Linked DNA regions of Homo sapiens: region 2 is linked to region 1. A link means that fine-mapping ties the variant in region 1 to the expression of a gene that starts in the linked region. Tissue or cell type: monocytes after interferon gamma. Region 1 holds a variant in brackets; the other region holds the start of a gene. All regions are shown on one strand. Distances are from middle to middle.

Evidence for each region. PIP is the estimated chance that this variant, and not a neighbour inherited with it, causes the effect.
Region 2: it holds the start of FLYWCH2, and the variant in region 1 is fine-mapped to the expression of FLYWCH2 in monocytes after interferon gamma (Fairfax 2014, PIP 0.93).

The regions. Positions count from the first base shown.
Region 1 is chr16:2,914,785-2,922,883 of GRCh38, reverse strand. The region is part of intron 2 of FLYWCH1 (FLYWCH-type zinc finger 1); the gene reads right to left. It also overlaps the pseudogene RPL23AP86. Among named protein-coding and RNA genes, the nearest start is that of FLYWCH1, 6.9 kb to the right of the region's middle. The variant C/T (reference allele first, on the strand shown) is at 3,805.
Region 2 is chr16:2,879,888-2,887,986 of GRCh38, reverse strand. FLYWCH2 (FLYWCH family member 2) reads right to left here and starts at 4,772. Exons shown (of 4, transcript NM_138439.3): 1 at 4,621-4,772. RefSeq lists silencers at 4,337-4,396, 4,487-4,656, 5,157-5,626 and an enhancer at 5,355-5,855.

The DNA of each region.
Region 1 (8,099 bases):
CGACCACTGAGTCTGCCATGAAGAAGACAGAAGACAACACACTTGTCTTCACTGTGGATGTTAAAGCCAACAAGCACCAGCTCAAACAGGCTGTGAAGAACTCTGTGAGGTGGTTGTGGCCCAGGTCAATACCCTGATTGGGCCTGATGGAGAGAAGAAGGCACATGTTCCACTGGCTCCTGATCAGGATGCTTTGGGTGTGGCCAACAAAATGGAGATCATGTAAACCGAGTCCGGCTGGCTAATTCTAAATATATGTATATCTTTTCACCATAAAAAAATCTGCAACATACGACATGCCAGGCACAAGGGGACAAACACTGTCTGATTCCACTTGTATGAGGTCCCCAGGGCAGTCAAACTTATGGGGACAGAAAGTAGAATGGGGGTGCCAGGGGCAGGAGGATGAGGAGGGAGTGTTTCATGGGCACAGAGCAGCCGTTGGGGAAGATGAAAAGGTTCTGGAGATGGACGGTGGTGACGGATGAACAATGAATGTGAACCGCTGACCTGGACACTTCAACATCGAGGCTCAGGGAGAGCAGCTGCTCACAAAGACCAAGGGTTGTAGGATGCAATTTACATGAATGACCAATATGGTAAATTTTACGTCATGTATATTTAACCCTACACACACACACACACACACACACGAGCCATCTGTAACAAACTATACACAAAACACCCCATTTCCCTAACATTATCAGTGAATAAGCTTCTCCCTACAAGGTAGATTTTCTAGTAACTAAAGTTATCCCGCCATGATTCAGAATATGATTTTTATCTGATTCAAAATGTACCCATTTAAGATGGATTCTTTTTTTTAACTCTGTCACCCAGTTGCCCAGGCAGGAGTGCAGTGGCACGATCTCAGTTCATTGCAACCTCTGCCTCCCGGGTTCAAGTGATTCTCCCGCCTCAGCCTCCTGAGTAGCTGGGACTACAGGCGCGCGCCACCACACCTAGCAAATTTTTGTATTTTTTAGTAGAGATGGGGTTTCACCATATTGGCCAGGATGGTCTCGAACTTCCGACCTCATGATCTGCCTGTCTTGGCCTCCCAAAGTGCTGGGATTACAGGTGTGAGCCACCACACCCGGCCAGAATGAATACCTTTTATTTTTTATTTTAGTGGCAGGATTTCACTACAGCCTAAACCGGAGTGTGGTGGCGTGATCACTACAGCCTCTGCCTCCCAGGCTCAAGCCATCTTCCCACCTCAGCCTCCAGAGTAGCTGGGACCACAGGCGCACACTACCATGCCCGGCTAATTTCTGTATTCTTTGTAGAGACGGGGTTTTGCCAGGTTGCCCAGCCTGGTTTTTTAATTAAATTAAAAAAAAATATTTTGGTAATGACAGGGTCTTGCTATATTTCCAGGTTGGTTTTGAACTCCTGGGATCAAGCGATCCTCCCACCTCAGCCTCCCAAGCACCGGATGGATGCCTCTATAAGCTCTTCTCACCCGCTTCCCTGTCCAGAGAAAGGGAGCAACCATCCTCCCTCTGGCTTTAGAAGCAAAAAAAAAAAAAGTCCTAAAATTGATGGTGGTGATACTTGGACAGCTTTCTGAATATATTAAAAGCAATGAATTGTAGACTTAAAAAGTCCTAAAATTGATGGTGGTGATACTTGGACAGCTTTCTGAATATATTAAAAGCAATGAATTGTAGACTTTAGATGGAGAAATCATATGGTATTATGTAAATTATATCTCAGGAAAGTTATTGAAAAACAATCCCTGTCTGGGAATGGTGGCTCACGCCTGTAATCCCAGCACTTTGGGAGGCCGAGGCGGGCAGATCACGGGGTCAGCAGATCGAGACCATCCGGGCTAACACAGTGAAACCCCGTCTCTACTAAAAACACAAAAAATTAACTGGGCGTGGTGGCGGGCGCCTGTAGTCCCAGCTACTCGGAAGGCTGAGGCAGAAGAATCGCTTGAACCCGGGAGGCAGAGGTTGCAGTGAGCTGAGATCGCGCCACTGCACTCCAGCCTGGGCGACAGAGTGAGACTGTCTCAAAAAAAAAAAAAAAAAAAAAGGCCAGGCGTTGTGGCTCACGCCTGTAATCCTAGCACTTCGGGAGGCCAAGGTGGGCAGATCACCTGAGGTGGGGAGTTTGAGACCAGCCCGACCAACATGGAGAAACCCCGTCTCCACTAAAAATACAAAAATAGCCAGGCATGGTGGCATATGCCTGCAATCCCAGCTACTCGGGAGGCTGAGGCAGGAGCTCACGCTATTGCACTCCAGCCTGGGCAACAAGAGCAAAACTCCATCTCAAAAAAACAAAAACAAACAAACAAACAATGGTCAGAATGACTCAGATTCCAAGGGTCTCTTGGTGGAAAAGTGTTTTTTTTTTTTTTTAAGACAGAGTCTCACGGCCACCCAGGCTGGAGTGCAATGGCGTAATCTTAGCTCACTGCAACCTCCGCCTCCTGGGTCAAGCGATTCTCAGGCCTCAGCCTCCTGAGTAGCTGGGATTATAGGCACCTGAAACCACACATGGCTAAATTTTGTTTTGTATTTTTAGTAGAGATGGAGTTTCACCATTTTGGCCAGGCTGGTCTCGAACTCCTGGCCTCTAGTTACCTACCTGCCTCCTAAAGTGCTGGGATTACAGGTGCTCTACTAAACATCAGAAGCTTCTTGTTCTTGGGTTTGGTTTACTCATCAAAGAAGGGGTGGCATGCATTATATGTTGTGAAATTTTCTAAGTTCTAATATCATATTCTAAAAATATATAGAAACTATTTCAGAATGTTAAGACTATAATACTAAAATGACCCCTAATCCTGCCACTCAAATGCACAACTACTTCCATTGTTGAACTAATGCCTTTAAGGCGCTTGCTTTTCTGTAGCACACACTGCGTTCAATCATGTCTGCTACTGTATCCCCCTCGAGAGCAGGAAGCCCCCACCAGAGGCCACCTGGAGTCTTTCCAAAGGACCATTACATAAGGCAGGACCACCCGTCACGGGGGAAGCGCAAATTTAAATCCTCAGCAGCAATACTCCATATGGCCACAAGATGGTGGTGTTGCTCCTGAAATGTTCCTATTGCCTTGGTAAAATTACACGGGTGGCAATGTTTTCAAACAAGAATTTGGAAATTTTTCCAAGTTGGAAAAAAAATTCAAGAGGATTTCCAAAATGTTATATTTACAAAAAGTAGTACTTCGAGCTGGGCATGGTGGTGCGTATGTGTAGTCCCAGCCACTTGGGAGGTTGTGGCAGGAAAATGGCTTGAGCCCAGGAGTTTGAAGCCAATCTGGGCAACATCACATGACCCCATCTCAAGAAACAAAAAATAGGCCAGACGCGGTGGCTCACGCCTGTAATCCCAGCACTTCGGCAGGCCAAGGCAGGCGGATCACGAGGTCAAGAGATCGAAACCATCCTGGCAAACATGGTGAAACCCCGTCTCTACTAAAAATACAAAAATTAGCTGGGTGTGGTGGCGCATGCCTGTAATCCCAACTACTCGGGAGGCTGAGGCAGGAGAATCGCTTGAACCCAGGGGGCAGAGGTTGCAGTGAGCCGAGACCATACCACTGTACTCCAGCCTGGGAGACAAAGCAAGACTCCGTCTCAAAAAAAAAAAAAGAAACAAAAAATTAAAACAAATGAATAAATATACACGCATATATCAGAGAGCAGCTGGGTGTGGTGGCTCACGCCTGTAATCCCAGCACTTTGGGAGGCTGAGGTGGGTGGATCACAACGTCAGGAGATCGAGACCACCTTGGATAACATCTACTAAAACACAAAAGATTAATCAGGAGTGGTGGTGAGCA[C/T]CTGTAATCCCAGCTACTTGGGAGGTGGAGGCAGAAGAATTGCTTTGGAGGTTGCAGTGAGCCGAGATCATGCCACTGCACTCCAGCCTGGGCAAAAGAGGGAGACTCTGCCTCAAAAAAGAAAAAAAAAGAAAGCAAAATCCAATTAACAAATTCAGTAAAGACTATCTTTCTAAACAAGTTTTTGTTTCCAAAAAAGACCAAAATATTACTTGGACAAGACACTACGTTCTAGCCCTCAATCCACTGGTCTTTCCTACTATTTCCTTTCTATTCTGGTCATATTTGTTATTCATTGGCGAATTTTATTTTACATGTTTATAACTTAAAAACATTTAAGGCCAGGCACGGTGGTTCACGCCTCTAATCCCAGCACTTTGGGAGGCCGAGGCAGGCGGATCACCTGAGGTCGGGAGTTTGAGACCAGCCTGACTAAAATGGAGAAACCCCGTCTCTACTGAAAATACAAAAATTAGATGGTCATGTTGGTGCATGCCTGTAATCCCAGCTATTCAGGAGGCTGAGGCAGAAGAGTCACTCGAAACCGGGAGGTGGAGGTTGCAGTGAGCCAAGATCCTGCCATTGCACTCCAGCCTGGGCAACAAGAGCAAAACTCCCTCTCAAAAAAAAAAAAGCCTGGCGCGGTGGCTCACGCCTGTAATCCCAGCACTTTAGAAGGCCAAGGCAGGCGGATCACGAGGTCAGGAGATCGAGACCATCCTGGCTAACACGGTGAAACCCCGTCTCTACTAAAAATACAAAAAATTAGCTGGGCGCGGTGGCGGCCGCCTGTAGTCCCAGCTACTCGGGAGGCTGAGGCAGGAGAATGGTGTGAGCCTGGGAGGCGGAGCTTGCAGTGAGCCGAGATTGCCCCACTGCACTCCAGCCTGGGCGACAGAGCGACACTGTCTCAAAAAAAAAAAAAAAAAAAAGGAATCCAAGGCCAGGCACAGTGGCACATACCTCTAATTCCAGCACTTTGGGAGGCCGAGGTGGGTGGATCACTTGAGGTCAGGAGTTCAAGACAAGCCCGGCCAACATGGCAAAACCCCATCTCTTCCAAAAAATACAAAAATTACCTGGGCATGGTGGCGGGCGCCTGTAATCCCAGCTACTCAGGAGGCTGAGGCAGGGAGAATTGCTTGAACCCAGGAAGTGGAGGTTGCACAGTGAGCCAAGATCGTGCCACTGTACTCCAGCCTGGGCAACAGTGAGACTCCATCTCGAGGGGGAAGAAAAGACTCCAGATTTTGGGGGGTGGGGAGAGGATCGGGGGAGGGGAAGAGGGAGGCCAAAGGAAGAGGGAGGAACAAGAATCTAGATTTTTCACAAATCCTCCTGATACTGATAGACTGTGAACTAGACTTTGACAAACACTAGAATAGATGACCTTGGGAAACAGAAGACTGCAGCTAAGCGACGAACCTAAGCAACACCTGAGGTTTGCTTTGTGCTGGGCACTAAAATACCTGAAGTATTTTATCTACATCATCTCATTTACTCTTTAATGTCATACAGGTTTCCTCATTAATGTCACAGAAAATCATTAACGGCCGGGCATGGTGGCTCACACCTGTAATCCCAGCACTTTGGGAGGCTGAGATGGGCGGATCACCTGAGGTCAGGAGTTCGAAACCAGCCTGACCAACATGGCAAAACCCCGTCTCTACTAAAAATACAAAATTAGCTGGGCGTCGTGGTGGGCGCCTGTAATCCCAGCTACTCGGGAGGCTGAGGCAGGAGAATCGCTTGTACCCGGGAGGTGGAAGTTGCAGTGAGCAGAGATCCCACCATTGCACTCCAGCCTGGGTGACAAGAGCAAAACTCCATCTCAAAAAAAAAAAAAAAATTATTAACAAGCTTACTTTGTATTATTGGGAAAGTCATGGCTTTTTAAAAATTTTTTTTACTTTTTTTTATTTTTGAGACAGAGTTTCGCTCTTTCACCTGGGCTGGAGTGCAGTGGCATGATCTCGGCTCACTGCAACTTCTGCCTTCTGGTTTCAAGCGATTCTCCTGCCTCAGCCTCCCAAGTAGCTGGGATTACAGGTGCGCGCTACCACGCCTGGCTAATTTTTGTTATTTTTTTTTTTTTTTTTACTAGAGATGGGGTTTCACCATGTTGTCCAGGCTAATCTCGAACTCCTGACCTCATGATCCACCCCCCTCGGCCTCCCAAAGAGCTGGGATTACAGGAGTGAGCCACCATGCCTGGCCGATTTCCTCGTTTTTGAAAGTATTAGCAATTTAACAAGTTTCAGGAACCTTAGGGGTATTTTGGGGAACCTCAAGAAGAGAGGAATTTGCCCAAATTTTAAGTACTACAGGTAAAATCTGATGGAGAAAGCATCCTGGACTTGCCTTCTGTGTCTCAGGATATCAAACAACGAATTTTTAAATTTCTTTTTTCTTTTTTTTATTTTTTGTTTTGTTTTGTTTTTTTGAGATGGAGTCTCGCTCTGTCACCCAGGCTGGAGTGCAGTGGTGCGATCTCGGCTCTCTGCAAGCTCTGTCTCCTGGGTTCACGCCATTCTCCGGCCTCAGCCTCCAGAGTAGCTGAGACTACAGGCACCTGCCACCAGGCCTGGATAATTTTTTGTATTTTGTTAGTAGAGACGGGGTTTCACCATGTTAGCCAGGATGGTCTCTATCTCCTGACTTCGTGATCCGCCTGCCTCAGCTTCCCAAAGTGCTGGGATTACAGGCGTGAGCCACCACACCCGGCCTGTATTTTTGTTTTGAGATGGAGTCCCACTCTGTTGCCCAGGCTGGAGTACAGTGGCATGATCTCAGCTCACTGCAACTTCTGCCTCCTAGGTTAATTATCCTGACTCAGCTTCCTGAGTAGCTAGGATTACAGGCACGCACCAACACGCCCAGCTAACTTTTGTTTTTAGTAGAGATGAGGTTTCATCATGTTGGCCAGGCTGGTCTCGAACTTCTGACCTCAAGTGATCAGCCCGTCTTTGCCTCCCAAAATGCTGGGATTACAGGTGTGAGCCACGGCACCTGGCCAAAACAACAGACTTTAAAAAGTCTAAGTTTCCTTATGGAGACTTCCAGGCAGGCAAACTCAGGTAGGCTTATCTGGTGAATCAGTACTATTGCTGCACTACATAATCAGGCCAAATATGATGAAATCAGCCTTATAATCAAAAATATGTTTCCTTGGCCACTGTAGAAGAGGCCAGTTTTGCCTCCATTTGCACATTCATTTCAATATTCCTGATCTAGAATCTTGTAGATTCTTCTTTGGATTCTCTCTTTTTTTTTTTTTTCTCTCGACACAGAGTCTTGCTCTGTCTCCCAGGCTGGGGAGCAGTGGCTAGATCTCAGCTAACTGCAACCTCCGATTCCCAGGCTCAAGCCATTCTGGTGCCTCTGCCTCCCGTGATCCGCCCACCTTGGCCTCTCAAAGTGCTGGGATTACAGGCGTGAACCACTGCGACCAGCCCATGTAATTTTAAAAATTGCTGACTGGAACCTAATGATTTTAGGACCAATGACTAAGCAGTTTCAAAAACAGTGCCCTAGACCAAAACAAAGGAAATACAATTCTTTTATACTCATATAAAGCAAACACATGTTAAAGATTTTACTTACCGTTAGCCAGTAAGGTGGAGCTCAGGAGTTTGAGACCGGCCTGGCCAACATGGTGAAACCCTGTCTCTACTAAAAATACAACAATTAGCTGGGCTTGGTAGCACAGGCCTGTAATCCCAGTTTGCCGCCTGGCCAACACGGTAAAACCCTGTCTCTACTAAAAATACAAAAAAATTAGTCGGTCGTGGTGCATGCCTGTAATCCCAGCTGCTCAGGAGGCTGAGGCAGAACTCACTGAACCTACCGGGGAGATGGAGGTTGCAGTGAGCCAAGATCACACCAATGCACTCCAGCCTAGGCAACAAAATGAGACTGTCTCAGGAAAAAAAAAAAAAATTTCAGTGCATGTAATAAAAATGAGTATATTTTAATACATTTATATTATTTAATAAATTCAATAAATATCTCATTTAATAAAAATTAGAAACTTTTGTTACTCTAGTTTAAGTGCTTTTTTTTTTTACAGTAGATACCCATTGTTTTACAGTAGATACAGGGGCCCTAATGTGTTTCTTTTGTAATGTTCAATCTTCATTCAGTACAAATTTCTTTTTTTTTTTTTTTTTTTGAGACAGAGTCTCACTCTGTCGCCCAGGCTGGAGTGCAGTGGCTCGATCCTGTCTCACTGCAACCTCCGCTGAATCCTTGAACCAGGTTCAAGCGATTCTGCTCCTCAGGCTCCTGAGTAGCTG
Region 2 (8,099 bases), 35 kb after region 1:
AGATCAACAGAATAGAACTGAGAGTCCAGAAATACACTCTTATATATATGGTGAACTGATTTTCAGCAAAGGTGGCAAGACAGTTCTGTGGAGGGAAAATAGTCTTAACGACAAATGTTGGGCCAGGCGTGGTGGCTCATGCTTGTAATTCCAGTACTTTGGGAGGGTGATGTAGGAGGATCGCTTGAACCCAGGAGTTCCAGACCAGCCTAGGCAACATAGTGAGATCTCATCTCTAAAAAAAATATTATTAACCAGGGTGGTGGGGCACATATGTAGTTCCAGCAACTTGGGAGGCTGAGGTGGGAGCGTTGCTTGAGCCTGGGAGGTCAAGGCTGCAGTAAGCTGTGATTGTGCTGCTGTACCTCAGCCTGGGTGACAGAGCAAGACTCTGTCTCAAAAAATAATAATAATAATAATAAAAACAAACATTAAATGCTAGGACCACTGAATATCCAATACAAAAGAATGAAGTTGTATGCTTTCCTCACAGCATATACAAAAATTAACTCTAAATAAATTATATGGCTAGGCATGGTGGCTCATGCCTATAAACCTAGCACTTTGGGAGGCTGAGGTGGGCAGATCTCTTCAGCTCGGGAGTTCAGGTCTAGCCTGGGCAACATGGCGAGACCTCATCTCTACTAAAAATACAAAAAAAAAAAAAAAAAAAGAAAGCCGGGCATGGTGGTGTGCACCCGTGGTCCCAGCTACTTGGGAAGCTGAGGTGGAAGGATTGCTTAAGCCAGTGGGGCGGAGGTTGCAGTGAGCCGAGATTGCACCACTGCACTCCAGCTTGGGTAACAGAGTGAGATCCTGTCTCAAAACAACAAAAAAACAAAAAATTATAGTTTATTACAAGAGCTACAGTAATAAAACTTTTTTTTAAAAGAAAAACTAAATTCTCATAACCTTAGATTAGGCAAAGCTTTCTTCAATATAATGAAAGGCACAAACAACCAATGAAGAAATAAACTGGACTTCAACTAAGTTTAAGAGTTTTGTGTTTTAGCCATAAAACTTTTGAAAGTTAAGAGATAACCCATAGAATGGGAAAAAATGTTTGCAAATCATATATCTGATAAGGGACTTGTATCTGGAATTTATAAAGAACTATTACAACTCAGTAATAAACAAGCAAACAAACAAACAATTTAAAAATGGGCGGCTGGGCATGGTGGCTCACACCTGTAATCCCAGCACTTTGGGAGGCCGAGGCAGGTGGATCATCTGAGGTCGGGAGTTCGAGACCAGCCTGACCAACATGGAGAAACCCTGTCTCTACTAAAAATACAAAATTAGCCAAGCTTGGTGGCACATGCCTGTAATCCCAGCTACTCAGGAGGCTGAGACAGGAGAATTGCTTGAACCCAGGAGGCGGAGGTTGCGGTAAGCTGAGATTGCACCAGTGCACTCCAGCCGGGACAACAAGAGCAAAATCCGCCTCAAAAAAAAAAAAAAAAAAAAAAAGGACAAAGGGGCAGGGCGTGGTGGCTCATGCCTGTAATCCCAGCACTTAGGGAGGCTGAGGCAGGAGGATCACCTGAGGTCAGGAGTTCGAGATCAGCCTAGACAACATAGTGAAACCCTGTCTCTACTAAAAATACAAAAATTATTTTCTTTTTTGGATTGGTGGCATGGTGGCACATGCCTGTAATCCCAGCTACTCAGGAGGCTGCGCAGCATGAGAATTGCTTGAACCCGGGAGGTGGAGATTTCAGTGAGCCGAGGTGGCGCCACTGCACTACACTGCACTGCAGCCTGGGCATCAAAGTGGTACTCCGTCTAAAAAAAAAAAATAATAACAATAATAATAATAATGGGCAAAGGCTCCAAACAGGCTTTTCTCTAAAGAAGATATACAAATGGCTAATATATGAGAAGATGCTCAACATCATTAGTCACCAGGGAAATGCAAATCAAAACCACAATGAGATATCACTTCACACCACCAGGATGGACATAATAAAACAAACAAAAAACAGATAATAGCAAGTGCTGGTGAGGATGAGGAGAAACTGGAACCCTCATACACTGCTGAGGGGAATGTAAAATGGTGCAGCCATTTTTGGAAACCAGCCTGGCAGTTCCTCAAAAGGTTAAATGTAGAGTTACCCTATGACCCAGCAATTCCACTACTAGCTATATGCCTGGAAGAAAGGAAAACACATGTCCACATAAAAATGTGTACATGAATGTTACAGTTGCATTATTCATGAAAGCCAAAACGTTTCGATGGATATTCAAAACAGCCCAAATATCCATCAATGGATGAATGAATAAGTACAATGTGGTGCATGTATAAAATGGAATATTATTTGGCAGTAAAAAAAATCTATGCTACAACATGAATGAACCTTGAAGAAATTATGCTCGGTAAAAGAAGCCAGACCCAAAAGACCACATATTATATGATTCCATTTACATGAAATTACTTAGAGTCTAGAGAATCTACAGAGTAGGAAAATCTATGGAGACAGAACGTAGATTTGTGGTTATCTCGGGATTGGGGTGGGGAAGGGGAGAATGAGAATTGACTACTAGTGGGTATGTGCTTTATGGGGTGATGAAAATGTCCTAAAAGGAATTTTCATGAGGGTTGCACAACTTTGTGATCACACTAAAGCCACTGAACTGTATATTTTTTTTTTTGTTTTGTTTTGTTTTTTTGAGACGGAGTCTCGCTCTGTCGCCCAGGCTGGAGTGCAGTGGCGTGATCTCACTGCAAGCTCCGCCTCCCGGGTTCACGCCATTCTCCTGCCTCAGCCTCCGGAGTAGCTGGGACTACAGGCGCCTGCCACCACGCCTGGCTAATTTTTTGTATTTTTAGTAGAGACGGGGTTTCACCGTGTTAGCCAGGATGGTCTCGATCTCCTGACCTCGTGATCCGCCCTCCTTGGCCTCCCAAAGTGCTGGGATAACAGGCGTGAGCCACCGCGCCCGGCCGAAATGTACACTTTAAATGGGTAAATTGCACGGTATGTGAATTATCTCAATAAAGTTGTTAAATATTCAGAAAAAGGTAAATTGAGTCTATGAACATATGAACAGCAGTTCCCCAATGTCACTATCCCTAAGAATCACCCGGAGTTTTTTTTTTGTTTTTGTTTTTTAGACGGAGTATCGCTCTTGTCGGCCAGGCTGGAGTGCAGTGGCGCGACCTTGGGTCACTGCAACCTCTGCCTCCCGGGTTCAAGCCTTTCTCCTGTCTCAGCCTCCCAAGTAGCTGGGATTACAAGCGTGCACCACCACACCCGGCTAATTTTGTATTTTTAGTTGAGACGGGGTTTCTCCATGTTGGTCAGGCTGGTCTCGAACTCCCGACCTCAGGTGATCCACCCTCCTTGGCCTCCCAAAGTGCTGGGATTACAGGCGTGAGCCACCGCGCCGGCCCCGACTAATTTTTGTATTTTTTTTTTTTTTTTTTTAGTAGAGACGGGGTTTCACCATGTTAGTCAGAATGGTCTCTATCTCCTGACCTTGTGATCTGCCTGCCTCGGCCTCCCAAAGTGCTAGGATTACAGGCGTGAACCACCGCGCCCGGCCTGTGTTGCTTTAAGCCACCTTATTTGTTAGGACAGCAACAGGAAACTAATACAAGGTTCAATCCCTCACTGACGATGTTCTGGACGACAGGACCCCTGCCTGGTGCCTCATGGTGGACCCACAGAATCATCTTCATACGCACGGGGGAGAAACATCACTAATGTCCACCAGCACCGGCATCCTCAGCCGCGAGGACAAATCCCTTACCCTCCCAGCAGGTTTCATCTGCGTAACGGAAATAGTGGTGAATTTATCAGGGGCTGTTAATAGATGACAGGCAAGGGTGAAGTCATCGCAAAAGTTCCCAGACGATATGGACAGCTGCTCCCCAATAATTACTGCTCCACGCAGTCCACAGCGGGGCTGTTATTGACCCCGACAGGATGACGGGACACTAAGGTGTGCAGTACACGTCCTCACAGGGAGATTTAAAAAACCGGCAGTGACCCCTGCCCCAAGAAGGCCAAGAACTGCTACTCTAAGGTGTGCAGCGCGGAGCTTCCCCACCATGGCAATTTCAGCCATGGCAGCTCCTTCCCCTAATCACCAGGGCTCAGAATCTTTATTTCACTCCTTTACCCAATGCAATTGGCATCAAACGCGGGCTGGGCTGCGCCCAAATGGTCCCAGCTCCCCGGCTCTCTCCTCTCTCAAGAATACCCACACCCTGAGGCCCCGAGTGTCTCCCCCGCCCCAGTATCTCACGCCTCCAACTCGCTGCCGTCCCTGCAGGGACCTCCCGAGCTGCAACCGTGGGACGAGGCCGGCGGGGGTTGGGGGGTGCCGGGAAGGCAGCGCTGGGCGCGGCGGACACGGCCAGGGACCGGCGGGCGAGTGCGGACCTCCTTCGTGTGGGGGTGTTGAGGCTTTGGACAAGGGACTGGAGGGGGTGGGGAAGGAGGGGCGAGAGGCAAAGAGGGAATCGCGGGAGACCCCACAGGAGGCGGCCTGAGCACCAGGACGCGGACCCCTCCTCAGCACCCGCAGCCCTCGGGACCCCCGAGAGAGCCGGGCCGGGGACTCGTCCATGCCGAGGACGCAGGACCCTCCCCGCCCGCCAGGGCCCGTCCTCACCGACGACAGCGGTGCCCTCCCTCTCCGGCGACAGCGCCGCGGCGGGTCCCTCAGCCTCCGCGCCAAGGGCCCCAGCCTCAGCTCGCGCTGTTACCTCAAGCCGGGGTCACAGCGCGAGCATGCGCAGCAAGGCCGCGGGTGCCCTGTCTTCTGGCTGGGGCCGCTCCTCCGCGTCTTGCCCGTGCGGCGTAGAGCTGGCGTCCGGCCAATCGGAGGGCGGAGGCGGGGCCAAAATTCAGTAAGGGGGCGGGGACACCCGGGATTGAGTGTCGCCGTCAGGGGCGGAGCCTCGGGGGACCTGCGGCCTGGATCCGGGTTGCGGGCGAGGTTATCCCAGCACCAGTGGGTTGGGCTTCACTGCGACCCCCGGGCTTCCTCACGGATTTGACTCCGGCTCTCTGCGGGGAAAACTGGAGCATTTGTTTAAAGGTTTTGCTCTCCCCCGTCGCGATACCGAGCGTGCGGAGGGAAGGTGTTTAGGCTCATGGAAGCCACTGCCTTGCTTTAAGCTCTGCATCCTTGACGACGCAGCAGCCTCATCCGCGCCATTGGTCCAGCCCTCGTCTATTAGTTTAGCCCCTGCCCATTGGTCCAGCCCTCGCCCAATAGTCCCGCCCTCTCTCTGTAGTTCAGCCCCTGTCCATTCATCCTTTCTCGTTATTGGTCCAGCCCTGGCCCATTGGGCCCACCCGTGCCCACGGGCCCCGCCCTCTCCGTGCCCAACCACGTTCACCCGGCCCAAGGGGTGCCCGGGACACTCGCCATCCTCCAGCCACCCACTGCAGTGGGACTGGGCTGGGTCCGGGCACAGGGAGCTGTGGGGCCCTGGGCGCTGCTTTCCTGGGACACTTGGCTGCAGCGTCCAGAGCGGCCCCCGCACAGCCCCCTAGGCTCACCGCGGCTCTCCCAGCCCCGCGGGGTCGCCCCCACTACCCCGGCCACCTTGGTCCCCCTAAGCCTGGCTCCGCGCCCCGCCCCCCTCGCTCTAAAGCGGCCGCTGAATGTGCCACCGCCCCAGGGCTCCAGGGTCCAGGTCGAGATCCTCTGGGGCCTCCCGCACCTTCCGCCTTCTCACGTCCGAATGCCAGCGTCGCTGCACGCCCTTCCTCTGCCCTGCCCCTCCCGGCCCTGGCTCTGCAGGTCTCTGAATCCCACCGTGGACTCCGCTACCAAGGCTCCCGCTGCCCCCATCCCACTATCCTATCTCCCCGGGCATTGTCTGGTGTCATTCAAGGCCTTTGTGCTTTTTTTTTTTTTTTAGAAACGAGAATTGCGCTCTGTCGCTCAGGCTGGAGTGCAGTGGCGTGATCTCGGCTCGCTGCAACCTCTGCCTCCCGGGTTCAAGCAATTCTCATGCCTCAGCCTACTGAGTAGCCGGGATTACGGGCGCCCGCCACCACGCCCGGCTAATTTTTGTACTTTTAGTAGAGACGGGTTTCACCATGTTGGCCAGGCTGGTATTGAACTTCTGACCTCAGGTGATCCACCCGCCTCGGCTTCCTAAAGTGCTGGGATTACAAGAGTGAGCCACCGTGCCCAGCTACCTTTGTGCATTTATTTGCTGTTATCTATTAATCATTCACAGACTACTGGTTGTTTTTAACTTGATGATGTTATAAATATCTTTGTATATGAATCTCTGATGTCAAAGATTTTTTTTTTTTTTTTTTGAGATGGAGTCTCGCTCTGTCGCCCAGGCTGGAGTGCAGTGGCGTGATCTCTGCTTATTGCAACCTCCGCCTCCCGGGTTCAAGCGATTTTCCCGCCTCAGCCTCCCAAGTAGCTGAGATTACAGGCACCGGTAATCATGCTTAATTTTTATATTTTTGTAGAGATGGGATTTCACCATGTTGGCCAGGCTGGTATCAAACCGGAGTTACCTCCGGTGATCTGCCCACCTCGGCCTCCAAAAGTGCTGGGATTAGACATGTGAGCCACCTTGCCTGTCGAGATATTAAAGATTTTTTTTTTTTGAGACAGAGTCTCACTCTGTTGGCAAGACCGGAGTGCAGTAGCACGATCTCAGCTCACTGCAACCTCCGCCTCCTGGGTTCAAGTGGTTCTCCTGCCTCAGCCTCCCAAGTAGCTGAGATTACAGGCGCCTGCCACCGCACCCAGCTAATTTTTTTGTATTTTTAGTAGAGACGGAGTTTCACCATCTTGGCCAGGCTGGTCTTGAACTCCTGACCTCGTGATCCACCCGCCTCAGCCTCCCAAAGTGCTGGGATTACAGGTGTGAGCCACCGCACCCAGCCAAAGATTTCTTGAAAGTCTTAAAAGAGGTCAAAGGAGGCAAATATTTTTAAAAGCTTTTTAAACATGTAGCCAAATTGTCCCCAAGGAAGTGCACAAGCTTGGGGTTAGATGCTTGGGTTCAAGTCCCTGCTGTGTCAATTGCCAGCTGTGTGAATGAGCAATTACATCCCCTCTCTGTGCCTCAGTGTCTTCACCTGATAAATGGGGGTGATAACGCACCCACCTCCTACAGCCATTGTGAGAATTCACAGAGTATTGTCATGTGGACTGATAAGAGTCTTGGTTGTTTTCTGTTTCTTTTTGTTTTTGTTTGAAACAGAGTTTCACTCTTGTTGCCCAGGCTGGGGTGCAGTGGTGTGATCTCGGCTGACTGCAACCTCCACCTCCTGGGTTCAAGTGATTCTCCTGCCTCAGCCTCCCAAGTAGCTGGGATTACAGGTGCCCGCCACTAAGCCCGGCTAATTTTTTTTGTGTTTTTAGCAGAGACGGGGTTTCACTATGTTGTCCAGGCTGGTCTTGAACACCTGACCTTGTGATCCACCCATCTCGGCCTCCCAAAGTGTTGGGATTACAGGCATGAGCCACCGTGCCTGGTGAGTCTTGGTTTTAAAATTTATATTCCTTAGTCCAGCAATTCTCAAACTTTCTGGTCTCAGAACCACTTATGACACAGGATTTTTCAGTGCCCCTTAGTCAGCCAGAGACCTCCATGGCCAGCAGCACCCCTGTTCAGGCCTCCCTTGGCCTGGGCTCGGTGCAGGAGACACCCCACCCATTCCGCCATTTGTGTCATGTTACAGCTCTTTCAATCCCGCTGCCCCCCTTGGGTCCTCAGCTTCAGGGCTGGCCCAGCCCACTGCTATTTCCTCTTGCCTGGGCAGGTTCTGGGGGTGGGTGGAGGGCTACAGTGTTACAGCCTTTTTCCTACCAGTGGTAGACCCTCCAGAGTTCTTGTCCCACATCCAAGAAGAATGAGGTTATGCTGACAGCCAGTGGGTGAGCAGGGTGAAGAGTTTTATTGAGCTAACAAACAGCTCTCAGCGAAGAGGGGACCCTCTCAAAGTCGGGTAGTTCCCCCCGCCATGGTGTGTAGACCCCAAGTGTGGCTGAGTCTGAGGTTTTTATTGGCTCAGAATGGGGGAGTGCATGCTGATTGGTTTCTGAGTATGCAAAAAAGGCTTAAAAGGCACTCAAAATTGGGCATGACAGTGTAAACAACCAGT